Linked DNA regions of Homo sapiens. The protein of the gene in region 2 interacts with the protein of the main gene of each other region in a biochemical or structural test. Each region holds a gene or a part of one and is shown on either strand. Other genes may lie near its edges.

Evidence for each region.
Region 1: of the proteins of MYH9 (region 2) and TRPM6, one has a biochemical effect on the other in vitro, tested with the Homo sapiens proteins (one study listed by IntAct).

The regions. Positions count from the first base shown.
Region 1 is NC_000009.12:74,886,140-74,889,885, forward strand, and holds the start of TRPM6 (transient receptor potential cation channel subfamily M member 6), read right to left. Parts: upstream 1,783-3,746; 5' UTR 1,718-1,782; coding exon 1,685-1,717; intron 1,582-1,684; exon of another isoform or gene 1,510-1,581; coding exon of another isoform or gene 1,492-1,509; intron 1,209-1,491; exon of another isoform or gene 1,110-1,208; coding exon of another isoform or gene 1,092-1,109; intron 1-1,091. UniProt on the Homo sapiens protein: Bifunctional protein that combines an ion channel with an intrinsic kinase domain, enabling it to modulate cellular functions either by conducting ions through the pore or by phosphorylating downstream proteins via its kinase domain.
Region 2 is NC_000022.11:36,283,222-36,286,967, forward strand, and holds part of MYH9 (myosin-9), read right to left. Parts: intron 3,687-3,746; exon of another isoform or gene 3,626-3,686; coding exon 3,497-3,625; intron 2,733-3,496; coding exon 2,644-2,732; intron 2,561-2,643; coding exon 2,437-2,560; intron 2,109-2,436; coding exon 1,900-2,108; intron 1,291-1,899; coding exon 1,182-1,290; intron 1,045-1,181; coding exon 872-1,044; intron 1-871. UniProt on the Homo sapiens protein: Cellular myosin that appears to play a role in cytokinesis, cell shape, and specialized functions such as secretion and capping. Required for cortical actin clearance prior to oocyte exocytosis. Promotes cell motility in conjunction with S100A4.

The sequences.
Region 1 (3,746 bases), on a different chromosome or scaffold from region 2:
ATTCATGCCCTTGTCTATCAAGACAAGTTTAACACTACCAAAGGGTACTAGTCTCCAGTTTTGGCCCAAAAAACAAAACTCATGCTAACTCCTACCCTAGATGGTTACCACTCCTGGTGGGAAACATAAGAAACAACCAGATTCTTAAAGTCAAGCCCAGATTCCAGTCTGGCCAAAATAGCTAACGCTTTATCAGTCCTGTAAGAACCCAAAGCAGATGACAGTGAAACATCAAAATCTGTATACAGGGGGAAAGAAATTGAATAACTCGTTTCCCACTTTAACAATTAAAGGTGATCATTTCTCCCTAGAACAAATAATCACAAATGATGTGTATGACTAGAACATCTATGTTCTCAGTGTCTTTTTTTCTCTTTTTTTTTTTTCTTTTTTATGTTCTCCGTGTCTTAAAGCACTGACCTGAGTTCAAATCTCAAATCTGCTTTTCTCCTTTGGTTTCATTTTCCTCACCTGTAAACCGGTGGAGATGGGAGAGACAGGATACTTGGACTTTATAGGATTACTGCCAGGATGAAATAGTTAAGAATCCCAAACTCTTACAACCTGCTAAATACGTCAGGCATTATTCTAAGTGCAAATGGCATGTAGCATTTCAATTCATCTTGAAACTACAAATCGTATTATCCCATTTTCCAGATGAGAAAGCCGAAGAACAGATGTTAACTCGCCCAAAATCACAGGTAGTGATGCAGCTGGGATGCTAATTCAGGCTACCTGGCTCCAGAGCATATGTTCTTATCAGAGCAGGCTGAAATGAGCTAACGTTTGCTAAGCTGCCTGGACTATTCCTGAAATACAATGTGCTCAATTATACTTATTTTTCATACACAGTGTGAGAAAGTCCAGACAAAATAGGCGAGACCAAGAAATTACCAGGATCTCCACTACTCTCCCAAGCGTCTCCAGTGCTCTCCCAACAGCCAGGAGCACCCTCCCTCTCCAAGCCCCCAGAACTTCCTGTTGCGCCATATGCCAGCGGTGGAGAGGAGCCAGCGGGGACTCCTGAGGTTGCAAGTCCGGGCGGCGCCGCGTTGGGGAAGGAAGCGGACTGCGGCGGGGCGGGTGTTTACCGTAACCGGCGCTGTCATCGCTCCGGGACTCCTGCACGGGGAACACTGGGCGCACGGGGACGCGCAGGGGCGCGGAGGGACGGCCGTCTGGGCACTTCTCCAGCCGCCTCGGAAAGCCGCGACCCCCGGCTAGTCAGCGTCCGGGTCTGAGATCTGTGCCCGTGGCAGCTCAAAACGCGCCTTCTCTCCTCCGGATTCTCAGCTCAAGCCACCTCCGAACTCCTCTCCCTCCGGCCCGGAGCGGAATCAGAGCTGCCTCCTCTCCCGGGGTGTTTCCCACCGCCCCGAGCTGAACCCCCGACCCCCGCTAGGTTTCCGCTCTGACACCACCTCCGCTATGGCCGCATCCCAGCTCTTGAAACGGGGGCTGCGGGACCTGCCCTGTAGTAGCGTACACTACCTTAGATAGGATAATCATCTTTGGGTGGAGACCAGAGAACTTGAAAGCCGGTATTTCATAAATCCTAGCTATTCTAGATCCTCGTTAGATGTAGTGTCCCTGGCCCCACCCACTTCTATCTAAGGCCGGGGGCGCAGATCTAGCGAATCGCCTAAGGTCCTTGTTCCCCGCCAGTCGAGCAGCCTGAGCTTACCTGCAAGCGCTCCAAGACAGGTTGTTCTTTCATCTTTGATTTGCAGGCCCTGCTCCCAAAGCCCTGTCTGAGCTTTTAACTGTGGAGGCAGAAACTCTGGGCTCCACCTCCACACGCTGCCTTTTACAGCCCAGTGGATCTGTCACAATACCTTTCGGCTTCAGTTACCTAACTGCCTAGAAAAGAAGGTGACTCTCAGTTTCCTTCGATAAAAGAAGAATAACGAGGATCAAATGGGATGGCCACTGTCATCACAGACATCCTTTGTAGTAATGTATTGTTACTGTTGAGTCAGTGTGGGGCGTGAGGAGATCAGAGATTTAAGCTAACGCACTGCTTTTACTACCTGTGACTTATTGGGCATGTCAAGCCTCAGTTTATTTATCTATGCAATGGGAATAATAGGGACAAAAATCCAGTTCCCTCACAAGGTTACAATGAACAAAGGAAATCACTTAATGTGCTTCATGTGTAACATACAATACAAATGTTTTGTTATTTCTGGTTTTTTTTTCATTTTTTTTGTTTGTTTTGTTTTGTTTTGGTGGATTCCTCTGGATAGGCATCTTCTCTTTCTTTCTTTCTTTCTTTCTTTCTTTCTTTCTTTCTTTCTTTCTTTCTTTCTCTCTTTCTTTCTTTCTTCTTTTTTTAGAGATGGAGTCTTGCTCTGTTGCCCAGGCTGGAGTGCAGTGGCAGGATCATGGCTCACTGCATCCTTGACCTCCCAGGCTCAAGTGATCCTTCCACTTCAGGCTCCAGAGAGTAGTTGGGACTACAGGCACACACCACAGTGCCTGGCTAATTTTATTTATTTATTTATTTATTTATTTATTTATTTATTTATTTATTTTAGAAATGGGGTCTCACTATGTTGCCCAGGCTGGTCTCAAACTCTGGACTCAAGCGATCTTCATGCCTCAGCCTTCCAGAGTGCTAGGATTACAGGCGTGAGCCACCATGCCCGGCCTAGGCAGTCTTGATTAAGGTTGTGGTCAGTGATTTGGGGTGGATCCCAGGGTGTTGGCAGAGGTGGCACAAAGCACACAGGCAAAATGATGCTCACATTATTACAAGTGTAATTAACAATGCTAGTCATTCATCCCTGACAACCGACTTAAAATTAGGGACACCTACTCATTTAGTTTATTATGAATTTTTGCCTGGTGAATTCACATTTGCAGACAGTTTACAGGTTTTTTCCCCTCATTTCTCAATGTGGTTTTAATAAGCATTTCTTTGTTTATTGGAAAATTGTAATCTCTCATATGTGTATTGGCATTTTGTTGTTTTTCTTTTTGTTGTTGTTGCTGTTGTTGTTGAGCCAGGGTCTCGCTCTGTCACCGGGCTGGAGTGCAGTGGCACTATGTCGGCTCACTGCAACCTCCACCTCCTGGGCTCAAGCAATCCTCCAGCCTCAGCCCCCGCAAGTAGCTAGGACTACATGTGCAAGCCACTACACCTGGCTAATTTTTGTAATTTTTGTAGATACGGAGTTTCACCATGTTGCCCAGGCTGGTCTCGAACTTCTGAACTCAAGCAATCCACCCACTTCAGCCTCCCTAAGTGCTAGGCATTTGTTGTTCTTCTATAAACACATTTAATCTCCTTTCCTCTCCTTAACCCATCTTCTTTAAAGCGTTAATCTGTAAACAGTTAACAGGTTCTGAAAGCTCTTCTAAGGCAAGTAAATCCTTCTCGATCTCTGTCTTCCATACAATTTCTTTGTTAGGTCTCTTACAGTGACTGGGTCAGAGAGTTCTCAGAAATCTTCAGACCCACCAAGAAGAGTAGCCATTTGGAACTCAAGATTTGTAAGAAGTCTACCATCTTCTAGTTTACCATCTTTGGTAAACCTACATGTTAGGATGATCATATATTCTTTTCAGATCAAGCTTCAAGGCATTTAGAGCCTGAAATACAAGGGCAATGTGAAGTGCTTAAAGCATTGAATGTACTAGTTTACAAGCTGCCTTTGGTTCCCAAGCTGTATCAGAAACATCTGAGGCATTTGTCAAAAGTGCAGATTCCCAGGCTCCAACCACCCTACCCAGATCTCTTGTAT
Region 2 (3,746 bases):
GACTACTTATGCTTACAAAAAGAGCCCCATGAAGGCCTGGCACGGTGGCTCATCCTTGTAATCTCAGCTCTCTGGGAGGCCGAGGCGGGTGGAGCACCTGAGGTCAGGAGTTTGAGACCAGCCTGACCAACATGGTAAAACCCCGTCTCCACTAAAAATACAAAAATTAGCCGGGCATAGTGGTGCATGCCTGTAATCCCAGCTACTCCAGGGGCTGAGGGAGGAGAATCGCTTGAACCCGGGAGGCAGAGGTTGCAGCAAGCCGAGATTACACCATTGCACTCCAGTCTGGGCAACAAGAGCGAAACTCCGTCTCAAAAAAAAAAAACAAAAAAAATAAAAAAAACACGTAAACACATAAGAAAAAAACATGTAAGAAATGAGTATCTCAAAAAACACAAAATGAGAGTCTCAAAAAACCCACAAAAAAACACGTAAGAAATGAGAATCTCAGAGAATAAGATCCTCTGCTTCAAACATTCACTACTTCTTGAGTGTTAACACTCCCTGAGAAACGCAAAGGAGCGTTTTTAACCTCTGTAGGCATTGCTCATGAGGCTCACATTCGTTTTGCAGATATTTAACTGAGGCACCTAACATGTGCCAGGACTGGGCCAGGTGGCCTCAAGCAACTTCCAATTCAAAAGACAATAGACTTTTAGGACAGCTGGGAATAAACTACCTAGAGTTTACTGTGTGTTCAAAACACTAAGCTAAAGCCTCAAAGGCAAGGAGCCAGAAGGGGCAGGGATTGCTTTGTGCAGTCCTTTCTTGGTGACATTCGTGCCTTGCTTGTGGGCTCTGGTTGAGGAACAAGCTACCTTTTGAGAGAAGTGCCGAGGCAAAGGGGCGGGTGGGCAGGGCGGCTCACCTGAGCTTGTTCTTTAGGGAGCTGACTTCGCGGTTCATGGCATCGGCCGTCTCAGTGGCGTCCTCCAGCTCGCGCTGCAGTTTCCGGCGGGAGGCGTTGGCCCGCTGGGCCTCCTCTTCGGCCTCCTCCAGCTGCCGCTTGAGCTGCTTCAGGCGGGTAGATGCCTTGTCGGCCTGCGGAGATGGACGTGTGGCCCGTGGCCCCGGTTAGGGGCTCTGGGCGTGCAGCCAGTCAGCCCCACTGCCCTGCCTGTCACCCCATCTGCTGCCCAGCCCCGCTGCCCTTCTCACTGCCCCACCAGCGCCCACACCTGGTCCTTGTACTGCTCGGCGTTCCTCCGCTCGTCATCCACCTGCAGCAGCACATCCTTCAGCTTCTTCTCGGTCCGACGCACCTGTTTGCAGGCTGCCTGGCGCTCCCTGCATGACAGACAAGGTGGCTCAGAGGGAACACCCTCCTTCAGAGGGTCCGGCCAACAAGCCCTAACCAGGACCACCCATTCCCCGGGGCTCACTGGCATCTAGGGATCACGTAGGGAGGCCTTTGCTAGACACCTATGTGTACCCGGCTTCTTACGACGGGCACTGCAAATAGCCCCATTTACAGATGAGGAAATGGGCTCAGGTAAGGGAAGCGACACACCTCAAAGAGCATCTATGTAACTGGAAAAGAGGTCTGGGGGCCTACTGTAAACCCCATTCCCTCCAAGGAAGTCTCAGTCCTGCTGAGCCCATAGGACAACTGTCCTAGTGGGCAGGACCCCCCTGTACCTCCTGCTCTGATTCACTCTCAGACACAGCCACCAAAACTCCTGGCTTTAGAGGTGGAACAGAGAATCCTGTTCAAACCCCACAAGCTCCCCCAACCACCCAACCTGTGGAAGGGATGAGGGCCCCATCAGGAGGGAGGGAAACAGCCCCAGGCTCAGGAGACAGAGAGCTGGTTGTGGCCCAGATTTGGGCAGGACTGCAGGGGGGCCAGAGTTTTTTCCAGGACAGCTGGGGTTGGGCGGGGCCAGGGGCACGTACTTGGTCTCGTTGTCCAGCTGCTCCTCCAGCTGTGCAATCTTGGCCTCGAGGGCGGTGATGGAGGCCTTGTACTTGGACTTGACAGTGCCCTCCATCTCCTGCAGCTTGACCTTAAGCTCCTTGTTCTGGCGTTCCAGCTGCTGCCGAGCATTCTCGTTCTTCTGGGCGTGGCTGCGCTCCAGGTTCAGGTCGGTGTTGATCTGGTCGATCTGCAGAAGAAGGGCCAGTGACCTTGGGGAGGGCTGGGGCCCTGGCTGGAGGGCATGAGCAGGGCCAGAGGAAGGTGGCAGCAGGATCCCACCAAACCCTTGGGGTCCAGAGTCTTGGGTCTCCCAGAAAAGGGAAGATTAGAAACTTCTGAACACCCAACACAGAAGCCAGAGGGGGACCTTTCAGGTCCAGGTGCCTGGACATTTTCCCCTAAGCGCCTGGGGAGCAGCTGGCACTTGGCCTGTGCTTCTGCCGGCTGGGTCCAAGGCCAGCTCTGCCGTGGTGGCTCCAGCCAGAGCCCAGAGTGGGAGAAGTCCTGGCACCCACCTGCAGGTTGGCCTTCTTCAGCCGGTCGTTGATCAGCTCCGTGTTGCCCTGCTCCTCCTCCAGCTCCTCCTCCAGCTGGGCGATGCGGGCCTCCAGACGCCGCTTCTCCTCTAACGCCAGGGCTCTGCGGGGTGGGCGGGAGAAGTGAGGGGCCTACCCTGGGGACACACCTGGTCCCCCCCAACTCTGCCCCCTCACTCAGCTCACCCTTTGCCGCTGCTGTTGGCGATCTCGTCAGCCAGCTCATCCCGCTCCTGCTGGGCCTGGCGCTTGGCACGCTCCGCGGCTGCCAGTTCCTGCCACAAAGACCCAGAGTGTGACCTAAAGGCAGCCACAGCCCCACAAGACCATCCTTCCCAGCCCCAGGCACCCTCCCCTCAAGCCCTTCCCCAGGCCCACCTCCCCACGAAGCCCTTCCTCCAGAAACCCTCTAGCTCACAGGGCTGGTGCCCCCCTGAAGATATAGCTTAAACACCATATGTTTATAAAACTCTTACATTTAAGTGCTAGGAATCAAGCCAGGTGCCAGGGTATGGCGATAAGTAAGAAGTGTCCTGGCCTAACCAGGGAGACCACGTGGACAGAGTCACTCAGGGCGGCCCCTCCCTGTTCTGGGTAAGCCAGAGCTTGGAGTCAGCTCTGGAGGCCACAGGCAGATGGCTACACCCTGGACGCACTCGCAGCCGGCACATCACGCTGCAGGGCACCCTCCAGACCTGGGAAACACTTCAGGACGGGCTCAGGTGCGACGGGCAGGGCGGCCGAGGGGACGCTCAGACCCCTTCTCACCAGGCAGCATTCACAGCAGGAGGTGGTGGTGGCCACAAAGCCTCATCTCATGTGAGGGATGCCAGTTTCACACACACACACACTCTGATCATACGAGGGAGCCCCGCTATGAAACGGAACCCTGGAGGGAATCCTTATGTAACCTGAGAGCCATCCCCAGCCAATTCCTGGAGCCCAGTAGGACTCCAGCCCTGTCCTCAGCTGAAAGCCCCACGCTGCCACCTGCTGGCCGCAGGGCAGCGGTGCCGCTCTCCATTGCAGCCCCACCCACCTCCTGCAACTGGATCATCTCGGCCTCCATGCTCTTCAGCTTCTTCTCGTTCTCTTTGGCCTGGGCCAGGATCTCCTCACGAGAGGCGCGGGTGTCATCCAGCTCGCGCATGCAGTCCTTCATCTGGGCCTGGGGTGGGGACAGAGGCTTGGCACCCCACCCAGCTCCTTGGCCCTCCACCCCAACCCTCATGGGTCACCTCGCCAACAGGGCTCATGGCTGGTGCTCCACTCAATGCTGTATTTAACCA